Linked DNA regions of Homo sapiens: region 2 is reported to be linked to region 1. Evidence: microRNA targets listed by miRTarBase, many of them from high-throughput screens and not tested one by one. Region 1 holds a microRNA gene; the other region holds the end of a gene's coding sequence.

Evidence for each region. The annotated mature microRNA hsa-miR-7156-5p reads UUGUUCUCAAACUGGCUGUCAGA and lies in region 1 at 7,133-7,155, opposite strand. An mRNA with a match to its seed (bases 2 to 7 or 8) in the 3' UTR can be bound and repressed. Matches are read on the target gene's strand: a 7mer-m8 pairs with bases 2 to 8, a 7mer-A1 pairs with bases 2 to 7 and ends in A, and an 8mer does both.
Region 2: the mRNA of NCAPG2 is a reported target of hsa-miR-7156-5p. The part of its 3' UTR that is shown has no 7-base or 8-base seed match.

What each region holds. Positions count from the first base shown.
Region 1 is chr1:77,057,053-77,067,297 of GRCh38, reverse strand. MIR7156 (microRNA 7156) reads right to left here and starts at 7,155; the gene lies at 7,096-7,155. ST6GALNAC5 (ST6 N-acetylgalactosaminide alpha-2,6-sialyltransferase 5) reads right to left here. Exons shown (of 5, transcript NM_030965.3): 5 at 1-4,323. The coding sequence ends at 4,092.
Region 2 is chr7:158,624,960-158,635,204 of GRCh38, reverse strand. It overlaps NCAPG2 (non-SMC condensin II complex subunit G2), which reads left to right. Exons shown (of 28, transcript NM_017760.7): 28 at 3,488-4,036. The coding sequence ends at 3,539. Among named protein-coding and RNA genes, the nearest start is that of MIR5707, 38 kb to the right of the region's middle.

The DNA.
Region 1 (10,245 bases):
AGGTGGGATGAGTGAGCTACAAAAGAGGGGCTACACTTGCTCATTTTTAAACCTTGAGACACTCTCACCTCTTTCCATTCCAAAGTACCTTCTGGCATGTGCTAACACCTAGGCAATTGGTTCACACATCCTGCCCCCCAGGGCTTATTATTATAGTTCTCTTTGACGTGGCCTTCTGATAGGGTGAGCCACTGTCATGGAGCCCAGGACTTCCCTGGTTTTAGCACTGAAGTCTGTGTCTTGGGGACCCCTCTTCTTCACTCCCCACTTGGCCCTGGGCAAACCATAATGGTACTTCTGAAGTACCTTGTATGGTAGCCAGATATATTCCTCCCACCTACCATGGTCATTACTCTGGCAGGACCTACCCCAAATCTGTTTCCCAGATAGATCTTTAGTTTAAAAACCTACAAGGAAGACCTTAACAGCACCAAAGACTGCTGGTTTAGGAGCACACTGTAGACAAAAGAAGACAATTGGGAGAAAATGACAGTAAAGAGATACAATGAGGTTTAAGAGAGAAGCAATGAGAATGGAAGAAATGATTGGGTCAGATACAAAACATGTAGAGTGTTAACATCACCTCCCAACACTGCAGAGAGAGAATAGGAACATGGACCCTTCTTTCAGAGTAGGTTTATTTAACAATTTGAACCATCACCCTGGTGGAATTCAGGATATATTTCTGAAATGAGTTTGCTCTTACACAAGGGCAAATATTTAGGCAGGTACTAAATGGGTGCATGTGCCTTTAAATAACACTGTCTTAATCCTAATAGAATTTCAACTTTCTCCTTCTACTTTTACTTAGCATTTATCATCTTCTAAGTCGGTAATTTTAATTTTTGAGGGGAGTTTTTATTTCAAAATGAGATTATTTCCCTCCATTCTCATGTCATTCAAATAGATCAGTAATGGAGAGAACTTCAGAAAACAAAGGATACACAAATCTGGTAGTAACCTAAGGATTGTGAGAGACCACACAAATTTCTCTTTTAGGTACAATACGTTGTGTTTTGCTTTCATCTATTTTTTTTTTTAAAGAAAAGATCTTACTCTGAAATCTGATGACCTCAGAAGTCTCTGAATTGCTCAGGTTTTATGTGTAGCCCTTAGGAGTACACACCAGGGTTAGCAAAGCACAGGGACTTAGTTGCCAAATGCCCATTAACGGTAATGGAAATCACACAGCTAAGTCTCCATGCAGCATGCTGAATATTTACCTCCTAATGTTCTTTTAATGTATGCTTTCTTGGGTGAATATTTACCGTAGAATATTAAATCTGAGATTCCTCCTTTTATGGGCCATTTGAAGTGATTGATTTTGTTTGCAAATTCCCGTATCTTTGCCCATAATGGCTATCTATTGTAATGGCCTCTGCCAAATGTTCTTGTGTTGAAATAACAGAAGCCATGGATCGACCAGCTGTGGCATTGTATTACTGTGGTCTTAAAAGCTAGGAGGGAGCTGATGACACAGCTGGGAGAGAGGAAAAAGGCATGTAACATAACGAGTATGACTTAGGCATCAAACACAATCAGATACTGAAATCACCGAGGTCTATAAACATGGTTCTGTAGTCATCTTTTATATCAGAGTTTATATTTAATGGTGTTGAATAGTGTTCAGACGACAGTCATGAAATGGTAGTGGGAAGACAAGAATTCAATTGCCCACAACCAGGTTCATCAGCACAATCTATCAGAATTCTAGTCATTTTCTTTAACGCTGTAATAAAACCACTTTGCAAGTGGTAATTTTTTACACTTATTTACACCACATTTTTAAAAAATATGAAATCACATATCCTAGCTACATGTAGATTTAAAACATTTCCCAGTGAAGCCATGATTTTCTGAATTTGGCCTCTTCATTCTTCTGAGTATTTGAGAGGGAGAAGTTACAAACGAGATGGAGCTACCATGATGGTTTTTTTAATAAAGAAAATCTAAAATCTGAAGATAGACAGATATGTGAGATATTATTAGATGAAGCAATATAATTACATTCTTGCATGTTGAAACTATGCCTTTCCAAATTTCCACAAATATAGAAATTGCCAAAGGAGCCACTTATGTTTGAGCAACATAACGTCTTCAAGTGATTATAAAGGTGGCCTATAAGTAAATTGTATAAAATTAATACACTTTTTCATATGTTGATAAAGTATGATGTGTTCAGAGTCCATGCTGTGGAAGACAATGTGTTGGAATAAAATTCATAGTCCCTTTAAAAACTATGAGAAAACTTAAAGAACATATTCCAGTATGTTTTGGACGGCCATTTCAATCTTACTGGCTTTGAACAGCCCAAGCCATACACATCAATATCAACTTTGTTTATGTTATGTGAGTACCCTGATTGTGTTTGCATTTTAACAACAATACTCCGTGTAATTAATAGTACTAGTTAGTGTACTAATTAAGAAAAGGGAAAAGAAGTGGTAATGCGATAAAACTTCTTTTATCATAAGCCAGGTCATGTCTGTAAAACAATGTCAGTCTTCATACATAATATTTGCTGGTGCCTTCAAATTTGGCATTAGAGAAACTAATGCCTTCTAAGTCATGTGTAAAGAAAACACTAGTATATTTATAAGAGACTATTTTTGAACAATATTACTTGTTTAAATAAAAATCTATAATATGAATTTATCTTGGCTCTGAATAAAATAAGTCCTTTATACTCCTTCAGACCAGGGAATGGTAATGAATATAATCTAAGAAGATTTGTAGTGAGTCTAAACAGTTCATAGCATAAATGAGTTGAATGATAGGGCATGTCCTTGTAGTCTCTTTTCCTCACAGAAGGGCAGCTGTTTGCTATTGTAGCCAGGGAACCCCTTGGAGCTATGTCTTTTGTGTGTGTGTGTGTGTGTGTATCCTGTGTTTTTGTGTTGAGAGGCTGGGGAAGAGGCGGATGGTGATGCTTCGAGAGAAGCAGGGGGTAGATTTTAGCCCATGTGGACACAGGAAGAAGTGTAGTTTTAACCACAAGAGTGATATAAGTAATATGAATGTAGATAAGGCTCCCCAAAATAAAGTTCCTGCTACTGTTGGGGCCCCATCACTCCAAGTGCAGAGTCTTCAAATGGGTCAAGAAGAGGCCACAAGTTTAGATTTGGGATGAAACCTAAGAGGTTGTCTGGTACAGTGACATCATTCTGCCAAAAAGGAAACTAGGGCTCAAGAGAGGACACTTACATAAATTATTACTAAAGAAAACTACCTTTAAATTTCTCTTGTTAGCATTTTTTTGTTTTAATAACATAGTTTTTGGTTTTCAATTTTGTCCTTTTGGAACATTTCTGCACATTAGAAAATGTCATCGCTATTCTTTTTACAAAAGAGCAGTTTTCCTGAAGCCTAGGGGTTCAAAAAATACAACACAACACTTCCAAGTCAAATACCAATTGCATGCTAACAATGAGCATTGTGAACAGAGTAACCTAATTCTAGGCCATTTCCAACCATCATTCAGGATTAAAGAGTTAGGAAGGATAAATTACCACATAATCATAATCTATAAAAATACTGGCCCAGATTGCACTAAAAAACTCTCAATAAATAAATATTGGACATTTGCTTTATGAAAGTCAGTGGAGATGTGCTCTTCAGAAATCATGTCCATAGTTTCAGCCTGCTTTTTACAAATCACACATACAGAGTCTAACAGATGACAAAGGTTATAGAACAGGAAAGAATACAACTTGATAGAAAAACGTCTTTGACATGGTATGTCTATAAAGGAATGCAACTAATATTGTTGAGTTGCTTATGTTGCAGTTTCAAAGGCAATACTAAGAGATCCAAACTGTTTTTAGTCATAGTGGTGTAACTGAATTGAATGTTCAGCTCCTAAGGTAACACCATTGAAGGGGACAACATTCATTAGGATGCATTAATTCCGGAATTTTTCCTTACAATCCAACTGCACTGCTTTGTCACCCCTGGTAGGCGTCTGTCCATGGTACTTCCTGAGGAGTGAAGCTGTTTTCTGCTACCCTTTCCTGTCTGGTGGCTCAGGAAGTTCAGTGTCTCGGTGTCTGATGCAGTGAATACCTGGGATTACAGTCTGGCATGCTCATTCCTTAGAACACAGGTTTATTCTCAGGATGATTTATAGCAAGTGATTCTGGTTTCCAGTCTGGTTGAAAAAAGTGAATATTGAATGTCCGTGCCCAGTTCTTAAAGACTCGTTTCTCTGTGATAAAGCGGTGATGACTGCCCTTGCGTCCTCGCTCATGGGAGAGGTACATTGTACATTCATCAGGTCCAAAAGGTTCATAATAATGATAAGGTACTGAAGGGTGATTGGGATCCCTGTAGGAGGAAATTGAGATAACTGATTAAAGCAAAAAAATTTTTTTTCCTTTGACTGATTGAGGTAAGATGTTATCTTTAATAAGCTGATAAAAATTGTATTTTCTAGTTAAATGAGTTTGAACAAATGGTTTTTCTGATTACACAATAAGGAAGTGGAGAGGTTTTGAGGTTGTGAAATAAAATCAGTGCCCATCATTTTCATCAAAGAGATTGAAAATGAGCTGCAGAACATTCAGTCTCCTCAGATTTAGACCCTACATATTAATAAGTCACAACAATAGTATTGTTTTCACTCTTCTTACAGTCTATTTACCATAAGCAGCTGCAGAGATATTACCAAAACAAAATATGTCATTCCCATTCCCCACTCCACTAAGCTTCCAGAGGCTTCCAGTTATACAGAGAGCATGGCTGCTGGGATGCATTATGATGTGGCTCCCCTTCTAAGTCTTCTCCTAATCCACCCAGCCTTGTGGATTCCCAGTATGTTCCCACCATACTGGCCTTTCTGGTCAACTCTACAAAGCTCATCCCTACTTCAGGGCCTTTGCACTTGATGGTGGTCACTTGCCTGGAATACCCTCTCTGAGTTCACTCCTCACCTTTGGGTGTCAGCTCAAGTAATATCCTTCTCTGAGAGGCCTTACCTGACACTTGCTCCCCTCACTTCATCTCACTTGAATTCATTTTCTTTATAGCATCAATTGCTGTCTGGAATTGTTGTTGCTGTTTACTTGTTTATTGGGTGTTCATGAGGGCAGTGTTTTGTCTTATTCCTGGAACAGTCCCTGGTAGGTGCTTAATAAATAATTTTAAAAATTATGTTGTTGAAAGAAATTTATATGGAATTAGCAGCTAAATAGCAAACTTCTAAATTTATATGGAATTAGCAGCTAAACGCAAATTTCTTCTCTGAGTTTGGAAAGTTGATGATCTTAGTTTGATCCTATGGGAGAAAAAGGAAGACAGCAAACAAGAGGCCACGATTTTTCTTTTGATGCTTCAGAGGGCCTATGTACTCAAAGTCTACAGTCTTTTAGTCCAGAAACTCTACATCCTCAGTCCTTGTTTGGTGGCCTGAGAGTCTCCGAGTGTTTTTCTGCCTCTATATCTCTGTCTCAGCCTCAAACAGGAAGTACTGGCTCATTTCTTCAAGATGGTGTGCATAGGATTAACATGTGGGGGTGGTAGGTGCCCTTGTTTGAGGGTTAATAAATATTTACGCACTAAAGAGTCTTGGTCTCAGACTGGTTTCTAAAACAGGCCAGTCTAGCCCACCTCTTCTGTCTTTTGAAGAATGAATGGTAAGATTAGTCAAGGTTTCTTGGCAGACAAACTTTCCTAATTTGAGCTATGCTCAGCAACTGGCCTTGTTGCAGAGACTAAGAAGAGAAAAGGCCCAGGCTTCCCAGCATCTTGCAAATCATCTTTCAGAGCCTGATGCCCTAGGGTTCCCACTTTGGTCACCTGGGCTCTCCTCTAAGTATAATAACTTGGTTTCCCAAAGATGCTCATCCTGCCAGACACCTATTCGTTTTCTTCAGAGGAGATCAATACACAAATAGCTTTTAGAGTAGCAACTCTACTGGGGTCAGGGATCGAAGTCTTTTATCAAGAGGGGTGTCATGTTTTTGGCTCTGACAACAATAAACCTTTGAGCTGTTTCTCCTCTTAGGTTAAAGTTCTTCCAGGAAGAGAGATTTATTTTTGTCATGCAGCATCTAAACATTCCTTATCCTGGTTTGGATGCTATGCTGAATTAACACTTTGCATCTCTAATATGCCCGTCTTGGAATTATCTCTATGTTCTGTAGTGAAACACTGGATCCTTTCCTGACTAGTTATTGCAGATTTTATTAATTTACTTACCCTAGAAATTGGAATCCCATTAAAATTTTAATAGAAGGTGTTTTTAACACAAAAAATGCCTTCTAACAAAAATTCAGGTTGAAGCTGACCACTATGAAGAAAAAAATAAGAATTTGTGAGACATATCTTCCCATATTCATATGGCATAATTTGGGGGAACCATGCCAATTTCATGTTGCCATGGTATGCTTGGGGTTAAGCTTTTATTCCATCACAAATCACTTTAAATTTGATTCATCTAAGTTTTGGACATTTTATTGGCATCAATCTGACTAAAGAAACAGTTAGGTTTCTAAAAATATCATAAGATTGATTCGGCACCTAGGAGTAGGGGGCAATTGGAAACCAGCTAAAGATGCTACAGGATCAATTTCCTTATTCAGGAAGACCATCTCTTTGGAAAAAAAACTTATCTGACTCCATATTGATCCCCTAAAAAGAGAATTAAATTTACATATTTGGTTACTGTGATTTCAGAGGTGTCAAGATAAGTTATTCATGTAAGCGAGTTGTTTCCACATGTTAAAACTCTGTCCAAGCAGCAGAAAAGTGCTTTCTGGGACTCAGAAGGCAGCGCTGGAAACTGCAGGAACATCTACCCCAGCTGTGAGCCTGCCATCAGCTGGAATTCACTAAATTCACTATGCCATTTAGAAAGACACTCCTAGCTGAAGGTCATACTTCCTTGGGTCTTTTCTCAAACCTGACTTTCTAAAGACTGCCCTAGTTTTTTTCTTCCTTCACCTGACCTCAGTGAAAACTACAATAAACCTCAGCGGAATTTCCACATGAGGAAGCAGTTGTAAAAGGAATTCTGGTACTCAAGTTCCCATTGTGGGCCCCGTGAGCTGAAGGAAAGGATATGCGGGCTGGGGAGGCAGGAATGGAGATAACCACAGAACCAGTTCCCCAAGTGGCTGCAGCCTGCCATGCACACTCTGACAGCCAGTTTGAGAACAAGCCCTGCAGAATGATTTGAGGAAGAATTTTTTTTTCTTTTTAGAGGAAGCAGGTGGGGAGAGTGAGGGAACTAACATTTAGTGCGGTTGGGGAGCTTTAAGGAAATACCTATGCTCCAACCCCATAGACTCTGCTTCGGATGACTTGGAGAGGAACTCAGGCACAGGTATTTTAGAAAGTGTCTTAGGTTTGAACCAAAATAAACAATGTCAGTATTGGATTATAAAACCAATAAAATAAAATAAATATCCATGAGTCCATGATAATTTCAATAAATAACTGAATAAATAAACAAATAAATGGAGGAGAAGAAACAGCATTTCAAGACAGAAAAATTCCAATAAACAATGTAGAAAAAATGAGGGACTAGGAAACCATCCTCAGAACGTTGCAGTAATTGTCGCAGGCAAGATGCACCAAATGAACAGAACATTAATGGGGAAAAAGATGAGGAGAAATAGGCTACCTGCATAACCTGAAAGTATCTCTCCCAAGTTATTTATTAATGACAAAGGGAAAAATACTATCTTTACAATAGGTAAACCCAGCAGACATTACCTTAACCAAGTGATGAAGGTTAACATTGCCAGTAATAAGACGTATGGACATCACATACTTCCTGTTATGAGATTCTGGGAAGGGCCTATGGCTTCTGTGGTATCCTTCTCAGTAATGCATAACCTCAATCTAAGCACAGGAAAACATTAGATAAACCCCAAGTGAAGGACATTCTATGAAATACGTGACTAGTCCTCATCAAAAGTGTCATGAAATGCAGGGAAAGCCTGAGGAACGGCCATGGATTTAGAGACTGAGGACACCTGATAAATAAATGCAAAGGGAACCTGGATTCGTTCTTGGAGGACATAAAGGACATTAGTAGAGAAACTGGTAAAATCTCAATAATGCCTGTAGTTTAGCTGAGCATTATACTCATGTTAATTTCTTACTTTTGATAATTGGACCATAGGAATGCAAATCCGCATTAGGGGAAGCTGGATAAAAGTTATATGAACTCTCAGTATTATTTTTGCAACCTTTCTGTAACTCTAAAATTATTTGAAACAAAAATAAACATATTTTTAAATAATACATATCATAACAACAAAGCTTTTTAGAAGATTCAAATGGTGGAAAGCTCCTTGAGATTCTAATATGCAGCTAAGTTTGAGACAACTGATTTTGTAAGTACCTGCTCAGCTTCTGCGCTTAACTGATGTGATCTCCTTTACATCCTCATCAGCCCTCTGAGGCAAGTATTGCAGCTCCCATTTGATAGGGAGCATCTGATACCCAGGGAGACAGTCCACTGCCTGGCTTTCAGCACACAACCTGACTTATTGTCCATCCAAGCTGCTGGACTTGACTATTTCAGCTCAGAACACAGTGCTCAGCACTCCACATACACTCACTTATTTAGTCCTCACAACACCCCTATAAGACAGTGTCAGTCCATTTTGTGTTGCTAGAAAAGAATACCCAAGTCTGGGTAATTTATAAAGAAAAAAGCCTTATTTGGCCCATGATTCTGATGTCTCAAAAAATTCAAGGTTGGGCATCTGGGGAGAGCCCCAGGCTGCTTCCACTCCTAGCAGAAAGTGAAGGGGAGCTGGCATGTGCATAAATCACAAGGCGAGAGAGGAAGAAGAGAAAGGGGGAGGTGCCAGGCTCTTTTTAACAACTAGCTCTGTTGGGGGCAAATAGAGTGAGAACTCACTCATGCCCCGCCCCAGGGAGGGCACTAATCTATTCATGAGGGATCTGCCCCCATGACCCAAACACCTGCCACTAGGCCCCACGTCCAACACTGAGGATCAAATTTCAACATGAGATTTGGTGGGAACAAACAAAACATATCCAAACTATAGCAGAGAGCTACTATTAGCACCCCTACTCTGCAGACGAGGAAACTCATGCACAGAAAAACTGAAGTTTCGCAGCCAAGGTTTGGACCAAAGCCAGTTGACTCCAGTTGACTCTGTACTCTTAAGAGTGAGGTTCTGTGTCTTGGAAAAACTCCTTTCCCCCAGGTGGGGTTTCTGTACTAATGGCACCCAGGTTTCCCTGGGATCAACAGTGTGTGGTTGAAAGCAGCTTGTCCTTGCCGCTTTCCTCCGAGCTCTTGCTACAGAGGAGCCCCATGTGTGGTGCTTGCGAGCTGCTCAGGGTGTTAAACAGAGGCTTTGTGCTCATGTGCAATTCTGCCCATCGGTGCTAATGGCAACAGGGGTTTGTAATGTTCCACTTTTTGACTCTTCTAAAGCTAAGTTTTACAACTGAAAAAAACCTCATAACCCTAACAAGCAAGGGAAGACACTTCCATTTCTGGGTACTGACGAGGTTTAGGACATGTTGCTCCAAAATATGGTACCTTGGCATTTGAGGAAACAACAGAAGCAGGGAGATCACTTTCACCTCCCTTCACTGTTCTCCTCTGATGCAGTTCATAAAAGATTTCTTTGCCCTCGTCTAAAGCAGGTCATAAACTTTCATTCCAGAGGTACCCTCCATATATCCGGAGGAAATGAACATCCTTATCTTCAAAGACAAGGAAATGTCAAAAGAATCTGAACAAACATACCTTGCTACCTCCTCCCACCCACCCTGGTTTATTACCATCAGATCACACCTGCTTTGTCCAATCCTACTTCTTCACAGCTATCCACTTCCTCATCAAGCTTAGCATAAAAATAAGGAGGTCTCCCTGTTTCTTTGGCTCTTCATTTCTGAAGGCTCTGGTGTCACGTAAAATTTATATTAAATAAATGTGTATGCTTTTCTCTTGTTAATCTGTCTTTTTTTCCTAGGAGTCTCAGCAAAGAACCTATGATGGATGAGGAAAAGAAATTACTTTTTCTCTCCTATAGTGTGATCTAGGTTAACCCTGCCCACTGGGTTTGGGGCTGGACTATGCAGAAGGCTGCAAATATCCTGAGGAAAGAATGGTGTCTTTGCCTCTCTCTAGAACTCTTAGACACTCTCTTTAAACACATTTCTATTCTTGGTGCAGTACCTGGCATATAGTAGGTACTCAGGAAATGTTTGAAGAATAGAGAGAATAGAGTTGAATTAATAGCTGTGAAGCTGCTA
Region 2 (10,245 bases), not on the chromosome of region 1:
CATACCCAATGAAATTGGTGTGGATAATTTAAAAGTATTCATGTGTAAAACCACCCTTTAATAAATACAGACACTGTCTTTTTATCTTACGGTTTTTCTCAAAAAATTGATTCTGCTGTGTTTCTTGTGGCTGTGATCACCAACATGTGATCCTAACCTGACATAGAAGGAAAGGTGGCGAAGTTTTGAGTCCTCGTGTTTGACACATTTTACAGACGTTAGTGCTGAGGGGACTTGCACATGGTCTGGTCTGTGTGTCTTGTTACATATCAGGAGAACCCTGGCCCAGGGAGCTTTTTGTCTAAGCTTTTTGTCACTGTCCCTTCCAACTTTAAAATTCCTTCATTTTGTTTTCTTCATTTGTTCTTTAGTAGTTCTTATTTCTCTGATTTACATAGTGTGTTCAATTCTTGCTTCAGGTAATAGAAGAATGAGTAAATTTGTATTGCAGTAGTGTTCCAGTAGCAGGAGAAAAATGGCCTGGGTTTAAACCCAGACTGCCCTTCCCATCTGAGTGGTCATGGGCAGTTTGCTTTACCACTTTTGCCTCAGTTAGCTTATCTGTTACAGGATAACGATAAAGAGTCATTCTTGTTGCCAGTCTAGACTTAGGTCAGTGTAAGTAGCTCTTTACTACCTGGTAAATGAGAACACTTGGCCCTCCGTATCCATGGGTTCCACGTTCGTAAATCCAACCAACCATAGTTTGACAATATTTGGGACAAAAATGGATGGTTGTGCCTGTACTGAATATGAACAGACTTTTCCTTGTCATTATTCCCTAATATAATATAACAGTATAGGATAAACAATATAGTATATAGTATAACAACTATTAGTATAGTATAACAATATAGACGATATAGTATATAGACAATATAGTATAACAATTATTACCATAGCATTTACCTTGTATTAGGTATTATAAGTAGTCTAGAGATGATTTAAAGCATACAGGAGGATGTGGGTAGACTATATGCAAACACTATACCAGGGACTTGAACATCTGTGGATTTTAGTATCTGGGGGGTCCTGGAACACATCTCCCACAGATAGTGAGGGTTAACTGTACTTTTAACGTAACATTTTTCTCTAAAGTATTTTTAAATTCATGTTCACTTAAGGAGACAATATTATTTTTGAGTAATTAAAAATTAATTTTAGGCCAGGTATGGTGTCTGTAATTCCATCACTTTGGGAGGCTGAGGCGGGCAGATTGCTTAAGCTGAGTTCACTACTAGACTGGGTAACATGGTGAAACCCCATCTCTACAAAAAATACAAAAAAATCTGCTGGGTGTGGTGGTGTGCACCATAGTCCCAGCTACTTGGGAGGGTGAGCTGGGAGGATTGCTTGAGCCCGAGAGGTCAAGGCTGCAGTGAGCTGTGACCTCACTGCTGCACTTCAGCCTGGGTGACAGAGCGTGACCCTGTCTCAAAAAAAAAAATTAATTTTAGATTTTGGAGGGTTCATGACTTCCTGGGCCTGTTCTCCTCTGTCTTGCCTCTGGCTGCACTGCTGCTGAGCCAGGCAGTTGCTGGGCTGACAGGTGGGCGGAACCTGGTCTGTGGACAGAGAGCACTCTCTTCTCCTTGGGGGACTCAGGGAATGGGCAGGAGACCCTGAGGCAGCAGGTCCAGTAGAGGCCCAGCGAGGCTGGGAGAGTGAAGGGGCTGTGGGGCACCCAGAGTCTCCTGTGTCGCTGCATGGCAGCCTCCACATAGCTGTGCCCTCACCCCTGGTTCAACACAGGCAGAAATAACCACACAGAGGGTGGCCCAGGCGCTTCCAGAGTGATAGTGGTGGGTGAGTAATAAGAGTCTTTGAAGAAGAGTCAACTGTAACCCCGAAAGGACAGTCTAGAGCTCAAGTGTCACAGACACACTACAGAGATGGTTCCTGTGATAGTCAAATTCCAGAAAGGTCAATTTGGAGAGATGTCTCAGAACATAGACCATAAATACTCACGAGGAGAGGTCACGAGGGTGGGGATAGACTTGGGGGAAAAGGCCCGAGAGACCTAACAGCAAGGAGAAGCAGTGATTCAACAACGATAGGAAAAAATTCCCCAGAGCTTAAAGAAATATATGCAGATTCCCTTTTTTCTTTCACTACATTCTGGATTGATGGAAAAAAAAAATCACAGCTAAATAATTATGGATAAGATTCCTAAATTCCAGGAATAAAGAGAAAATCTTAAAATTTTTCTAGATTCATGCAGGCCAATACAGTGGCTGCTGAACACATGAAACCTGGTGAGTCTAAGCTGAGTGTGGCCCTCATAGAAAGTGCAAGCAGGTTTTGAAGACAGTATGGAAAAGAGAATGTGAACTATGTCATAAATAATTTTATATTGATTACAAGTTGAAGCATTTTGGATATGTTGGGTTAAATAAAATATATTAAGATGAATTTTGCTTAAAAAAATAAAAAGAAGCAAGGTCTTGATCCATTGTACCCTTTGACCTGTTTCAATGTGATTACTGGAAAATGTAAAATGACGCATGTGACTGGCATTGACATTACAGGGGCTGTGGTAGACAGCAGTCTGTCTCCAAAGGTGAAGACCAGGTAGACATGAGTCTCACTTGCAGTGCTGGACACAGGAAGACAATAGGATTGTAAGAGTTTTAAATCTCGCTGAGATTCATTTGGAGTGAAAGGTAGATATTTGTGTCCAGGAGGAATTCAGAGATGAGCTTTTCTTTATTGCTTCTCTGAGGAGACTGCTTTGGAGTGCCCTGTAATGGAACAAGCATTGGAGCCATGCAGGAGTTGTGGGACAGTAAAAAGGGAAGCCATGGTGAGCCACGCACTTTGTAAATATGTGTATTTGAAGGAACAGTGATATGCTACCTGTCTAATAATGATTCTTAAAATAGGCACACTGCCAGGGAAGTGAGGACAACGTCTGGCAAGGAAAAGTACTCAGTGCTCTCAGCCAAAGCCGCGGCCTAGGTGGGGCTGGGGAGGACGTGAGGAGGAAGAGTCTCGCCTTGAGGGACAGGGATGTAGGGCAGGGGAGTGGGAAAGTGAGGTTTTTCTAAAGGCTTCAGGTTATTAGAGGTAGTAGGTAAATGTCATGGTAGTAGAGTATCTTGGTAGGTCACATAGTTTTTATTTATCTTGTTTTCTTGTGTAATAGAGAAATAGGCTCAGAACTGTGGGTGCTGGAAAGGAAGAGCACACGTCCTGTTTGCTCACCAGCATAGCACACTGCCCAGTGAGCACGTTTCATTGCCTGGCAGTGCTTGGTGTCCACGGTCAACCCAAGCCTGTGCTCCAGTGCCATGTGTCCTGACTGCTGTGGGGATTCTGACTCCATTTTACATACAAGAAACAATTAATGAAACATCTATAGATTATTTCAACTTTGTTTTTAAATGCATGGTTGCAAACCATTTTTAGATTATATTTTTGAAAATGTACATTTGGATAATTTGGTCACTTTTTTCTGTAGCTAAATATTTCTTTATTTGTGTTTCAGATTTCTCTATGAATCATCATCAAGAACTCTGGGAGAACTTTTGAATTCATAACCAAGCCAACATCTCCAGACATGTAAAAATAGGGAAAAGTGATTCAAATTGAAATGCCTGTGTATTTTCCTATTGTTTTTAATGTTAATAACCCATATAATAGGGAAAGGGTGGGATTTTTTTGTGGGAATGTGGGAAGGTGGGGGTTATGGAGGAGATAACTCAAAACTTCTTCAATTTTGCCTAGTGCCTGCGTAAATAATATATTTAATATAAAGGACTCCAGGTATGAATGGTGTAGAAATCCATGATTCCAAGAAAAAACACTTTTCTAGCAAACCTGGTTGTTTTTAAAATGACTTTTATATATGTAATATTGCTTGGAAACTATGAGTAATAAAGCAATGACAACATCCATTTGTTTATTTGAAAGTATTAGGGGCCCGGCGCAGTGGCACACGCCTGTAATCCCAGCACTTTGGGAGGCTGAGGCAGGCAGATAGATCACTTGAGGTCAGGAGTTCAAGACCAGCCTAGACAACATGGTGAAACCCCGTCTCTACCAAAAATACAAAATTAGCTGGGTGTGGTGGTGAATGCCTGTAATCCCAGCTACTCAGGAAGCAGAGGTTGCAGTGAGCTGACGTCGCGTCACTGCACCCCAGCCTGGGCGACAGAGCAAGACTCTGTCTCAAAAAAAAAAAAGAGAAAGTATTACCTTTATGGCCAGGAGTGAGGTGCTGTGATACTCCCTGAGTGGAGAGCCCAGGGCAGGGCCCACAGCAGTCTCTGGGTCCAACCTTCATGTTGCCTCTATGGGTATTGGGATGGGTCCTGTGGCTGTGAACGTGAGCAGCACAGACACCAAGTAGCTCAGCCTAAAGGCAAACACTGTTACTCTGGTCTTTTCTTTCTGAGAGCTGTTCTGGTAGCAGTGGTGCTGACAGCCTCCTAGGCTGCCCTGACCTCTCGCCCACCTGGTGGATGCCAGTTGTTTCATGGCCCCATGCTCCTGGCCCTCTTAGTCAAAGATTCTGTGTCACGGTTGATCCTGTGGGCCCTTGTGGACCACCTCATAGTTGGTTGGAAATTAGTGCAGCTTAAATTTTGTGCTTGTTCTGTCCTCAGCCCCTGAGCAAAAAAGTAAAGAAATTCCAGTGTTTCTGTGCCTGTATTTCTCTGAGACGGTACAAGAAGTGGACTACTTACTGTAGTTATGAGCATTCAGGGTAAGGTTTTGCCAAGGGATCTGAGAAATGGAAGGTGGGGAGTGGAATAATATTACAGCTTAATTCAGATAATTTTGAAAATATGACTTTCTAGACATCCTGGCTGACTAAACCGTATTCTGAATTAGTGAGTGACATTGATAACGGAAATATAGTTCTATCAGATAGAGTCGTTTATTTGGAAGGGTTAGTGCAGATCTAAGACTGGCGACTTGAGTATGTGAGGGAGAGATTGCTGGTCTCTCCCCTGTTATTTATTCTCCTCTTTTTCCACAGAAATACTATCTCTGATTTTGTCTCTGGGTACGTGCCCCTCCTGAATAAAGACCACATTCACCAACATTGCTTGCACCTACATGTGGGCATGTGTCCAGGTGCTTCCAGTAAGATAATAGTGAAGTTGTCATGGGCACCTTACAAGTTATCTGTGTATCTTTACCTTTCTTACATTCTGCCTGGAATGGGGTTGTGATGGATGGAGCTCTCACTGCCATGTTGGACTGTGAGGATCTACAGTTTTGAGCTACATTCCTGAGCCGACATTGTTTAAGCCCCCAGTGTCTTTGGGAGAACTCAGTCTTGACAGTTGAAAGCCATAACTCAAAGCTAGTCTGAGGATGAATCCCTGTGATTGCCACCGGGCACTTGACATTTTAATTAGCACTTCTGCTCCCAGAATTCACCTGCAATGTTCCAACACCAATGTTACTTCTGCACCCAGTTAGAGGGGTAGGGAGAGGTTGGGAGCTGCCCTACCCCTGCTGTGGCACTCACTCCTCAGCCAAAGACTGGCAGAATCCTGGCCGCATGGCCGGGAAGGCAAGTACTCACCACTTTAAACATTTAAATATTCCCTGCATCAGGAGACATTCTTCACCACTCACCAAGACTCAAGGGGAGAGATCCCAGAACAAAAAAATAAATAGCTGTTGGGTGGCCAAAGACAGTAATAATTGTAATTTAAATTATTCTGATTTTCTAGATCAGTGGTTTTCAGGCTTTAATATGCATCAGAAACATCTAAAGTTTGTTACAACGGCTGCTGGGACCCGGCCCCACACTGTCACAGTCTTGAGGTTCATCCACACTGTGGTGGCTTAGCCATTCACCTATTGAGGGTTATTTGTTACAACGGCTGCTGGGACCTGGCCCCACACTGTCCAGTCTTGAGATTCATCCACATTGTGGTGGCTTAGCCATTCACCTATTGAGCGTCGTTTGTTACAACGGCTGCTGGGACCTGGCCCCACACTGCCACAGTCTTGAGGTTCATCCACACTGTGGTGGCTTAGCCATTCACCTATTGAGGGTCATTTGGCTGTTTATCCATTCACCTGTTGATGGTTGTTTGGCTATTTACCCACTCACCTATTGATTCCCCTTTGGCTGTTTATTGATGGTCCTTTGGCTATTGCAGATAAAGTTGCTAGGAACCTTCATGTATACAAGTCTGTGTGGGCTTGTTTCACTGGGTCAGTTTCTTGGAGTGGAAGTTCTGGTTAATATGTTAAGTCTACATTTAACTTTTAAACAAATCTCACAAACTGTTTTCCATAGTTGTTGTAACATTTTATATTCCTATCATCCTCCCTTACAATGGTTATTTTCAGTGTTTTTATCTTCATTCTGTTGGTTGTGTAGTGGTAACTCATGGTGTCTTTAATTTGTGTTGCCCGAGGACTGATGCTGCACACTTCACTTATGTATCTGTGTTGGTGAAATACCAGCTCAAGTCTCTCATCTGTTTTTGTTGTATTATTGCATTGTTTGTCTTGTTGCGTTTTAAGCCTTCTTTAGATGTTCTGGATACAAGTCTTTTATTAGGGTTGGGTATTACAGTATGTGGCTCCTATTTTTATTTTATTTTATTTTATATTTTATTTTTGAGACCGAGTCTCGCTCTGTCACCCAGGCTGGAGTGCAATGGTGCGATCTTGGCTCACTGCAACCTCTGCCTCCTGGGTTCATGCAGTCCTCCTGTCTCAGCCTCCCGAATAGCTGGGATTACAGGTGCATGTCACCATGCCTGGCTAATTTTGTGTGTGTGTGTATTTTTAGTAGAGATGGGGTTTCACCATGTTGGCCAGGCTAGTCTCAAACTCCTGACCTCTGTGCTGGGATTACAGGTGTGAGCCATCGCACCTGGCCCTATTTTAATTTTTTAAAATGGTGTCTTTCAAATAGGAAATTTTAATTTTGAAGAAGTCCTGTTTATCAATTATACTCTTGTAGTTTGTGCTTTTTGTGTTCTATATAAAAAGACATGTAAAAAACCATGTTTATTTGTTGTCCTGTATGAAATAACATGTTTTATTTTGGCTTGCATAGTTAACTGATGAGAATCTTTTTTTTTTTTTTTTTTGAGACAGAGTTTCGCTCTGTCACCCAGGCTGGAGTGCAGTGGCGCAATCTCGACTCACTGCAAGCTCCGCCTCCCGGGTTCACGCCATTCTCCTGCCTCAGCCTCCCGTGTAGCTGGGACTACAGGCGCGCGCCACCATGCCTGGCTAATTTTTGTATTTTTAGTAGAGACGGGGTTTCACCGTGTTAGCCAGGATGGTCTCGATCTCCTGACCTCGTGATCCGCCCGTCTCGGCCTCCCAAAGTGCTGGGATTACAGGCGTGAGCCACTGCGCCCGGCCGAGAATCTTGCTGTTATTTCTACATTGGTGTCTGTGGCTGCTTTTATTATCTCCTTATCGAAACCTAAAAGCTCTGCTCTTGTGTTTAGGTCTGTGATCCATTTTGAATTAATGTTTATGTATGGTATGAGGTAAGGATTTATTTATTTCTTTATGCCATATGGATATCTAGTAGTCCCTGCACCATTAGAAGGTAATATTTTTATCAAGGAACTCCATGACACATCTCTGGACCTGCCCTTCATCTAGACCAGCAGGGCTCAGCTGGGCATGAGTTTGCCCCTCTTTCCGTCAGTGGCACAGGTGTCTTGGTGGGCTGGGTTGCCACAAAATGCCTCAGGTAGGAGGCACGGGACAGCCCTTGCAACAAAGAGTCATTCCAGCCCAGTGGTCAATGGTGTGATGTTGAGAAGCTCTGCTGTGTAAGTGTATGTTTGAGCTGTTATGATTAGGTGTGTAATCCATTTTAAGTTAATCTTGGATGTGGAGTCCAAGTTCAGTTTGTTGTTTTTGGTTTTTCCCCATATGATTATCCCGTTGTTCCTGCACCCTTTCCTCCTCCATGAAATCACCTTGCATCTTCGTCAAGATGCAGTTGGCTATACCTGTGTGGGCTCTTTCTGGAGTCTTTTCTGTGCACTGAGCTATGGCCATCCTTACGCCAATTCCCAGGGTCCTTTTTATTTGAGCCGTACCTGTGTCTTAAAATTGTGAATTGCAAGTCCCCAATTGGCTTTCTGTTTTTTGATGTGGTTTTGGCTTTTCTAGCTCCTTTGCCTTTTCATATACATTGTAGAATCAATTTGTCAATTTCTACAGACGAAAACATGCAGTACAATTCTGATTGTGATTACACTAAATTTACAGATCAAGCTGGGGATTAACTCGCAAAAAGAGTCCGGCCACTTATGGAAAGAAGGCAAAATAATAAGTTATGATGAGAAAGAGTGATATTCCTTTATTATTTGTGCAGGCAAGGGGAAGAGCAGTTCCACTCTTCAGTTTGTGGAGGGAACGCAGGGTTTTACAGAAAGGGTTTGGAATGCGGAAGAGGCAAGGGGGACTAAGAGGTGCCAGGTGGCGTGACTTGCTTCAGTGGCCCTTCTTGAATTATTGTCCCATTTGGTGAAGGGGCCGGCACCATTGTGCATCCTACCAGGTTATAAATTAATCACAGTCAATCTTGTAGTCACTCTTCAGCCAGGAGAGGGTTCTGGCCTTGAAATAATCTTTTGTTGGAAAGAGAATTCCGGAGTTGCCTAGTCCCTTTTAGGACCCGACCCCTGAAGCTTCTAAGCAAATAAATGGCCAGATAAGAGAGCATGGTGTGTGCTTAACTAGTATCTGGGTAAATACATGTGCATAAAGCATGGGAGCATACAGTGGGAAAAGAAAGAAGAGTGGAGGGCCCGGGTTCGGTGGCTCACGACTGTAATCCCAGCACTTCGGGAGGCTGAGGTGGGTGGATTGCCTGAGGTCAGGAGTTCCAGACCAGCCTGGCCAACATGGTGAAACCCCATCTCTACTAAAAATACAAAAAATTAGCCAGGCGTGGTGGCACACGCCTGTAATCCCAGCTACTTGGGAGTCTGAGGCAGGAGAATCACTGGAACCCAGGGGGTGGTGGTTGCAGTGAGCGGAGATTGCACCACTGTACTCCAGCCTGGGCGACAGAGCGAGACTGTTTCCAAAAATAAAAATGAAAGGGAGTGGAGGTTCGCAGCACATTCCAAGGCTGTATTTCGAGATGAAAGGTAACACATATGCAGTTTGTCTCAAAGTTTTATCTTGAGACTGGGAAGGGGAAGAGGAAAAGGAAAAGAAAAAACAGTTTGAAACACAGTTTGAGGCTAGGCTGCTAGGCTGCTAAGCTCTTCGGGCAGAGGGAGAATTGACACTCAACAGTGTTGAGTCGTCTGATCCATGACCATTGTCTAGTTTTTCAGACATTTAATTTCTCCCAATATTTTGTCATTTTCATGATATAGGTCTTCCATATGTTTTATTAAATTTATCCCTACGTATTTTGTGTTTTATAGAGCTGTTGTAAATGGTAGTATTTTTAAATTTTCAACTTCTAATTGTTTATACTGGAATAGAGGAAGGCAGTTTCTTTTTGTATGTTGACTTTGTATTCTACTTTTCTAAGCTCATTGATGACTTGTGGTAGTTTATTTATAGGCTCTGTCATATTTTCTACTCAGACGATCAGGTTATCTAAAAATAAATGCCATTTACATCTTCCTTTCCAGTCTGGATGCTTTTATTGCTTTTCCTTTTTGTGCCGGTGAGAACCTCCAGTAAAATGTAGCCTGGAAGTGGTGTGAGCAGGCACTCTCGCCTTGTTCTGGTCTCCACAGCACAGCATTCAGTCTTCCACAGCTCAATAAACTGTAGGTTGTTTATAGATGCATTTTATCAGGATGAGGAAGTGCCTTTCTATTCCTAGTTTTCTGAGAATTTTTTTCCGTGAGTAGGTGTTAAAATTTTGTCAAATCCTTTTTATGCATTTTTTTTTTTTTTTGAGATGGAGTCTCACACTGTCGTCTGGGCTGGATTGCAGTGGGTGATCTTGGCTCACTGCAACCTCCGCCTTCTGGGTTCAAGCGATTCTCTTGCCTCAACCTCTCGAGTAGCTGGGATTACAGCTGCCTGCCACCATGCCTGGCTAATTTTTTTGTATTTTTAGTAGAGATGGGGTTTCACTATTTTGGCCAGGCTGGTCTCGAACTCCTGACCTCATGATCTGCCTGCCTCGGCCTCCCAAGGTGCTGGGGTTACCAGCATGATCCACCGCGCCTGGCCCACATCTATTAACTAACATATCTACCTTCAAAAAATACTGTATCCCTTCATGAGTTGCACACAAACTTAGCAGCTTACCTCCACCTTCTG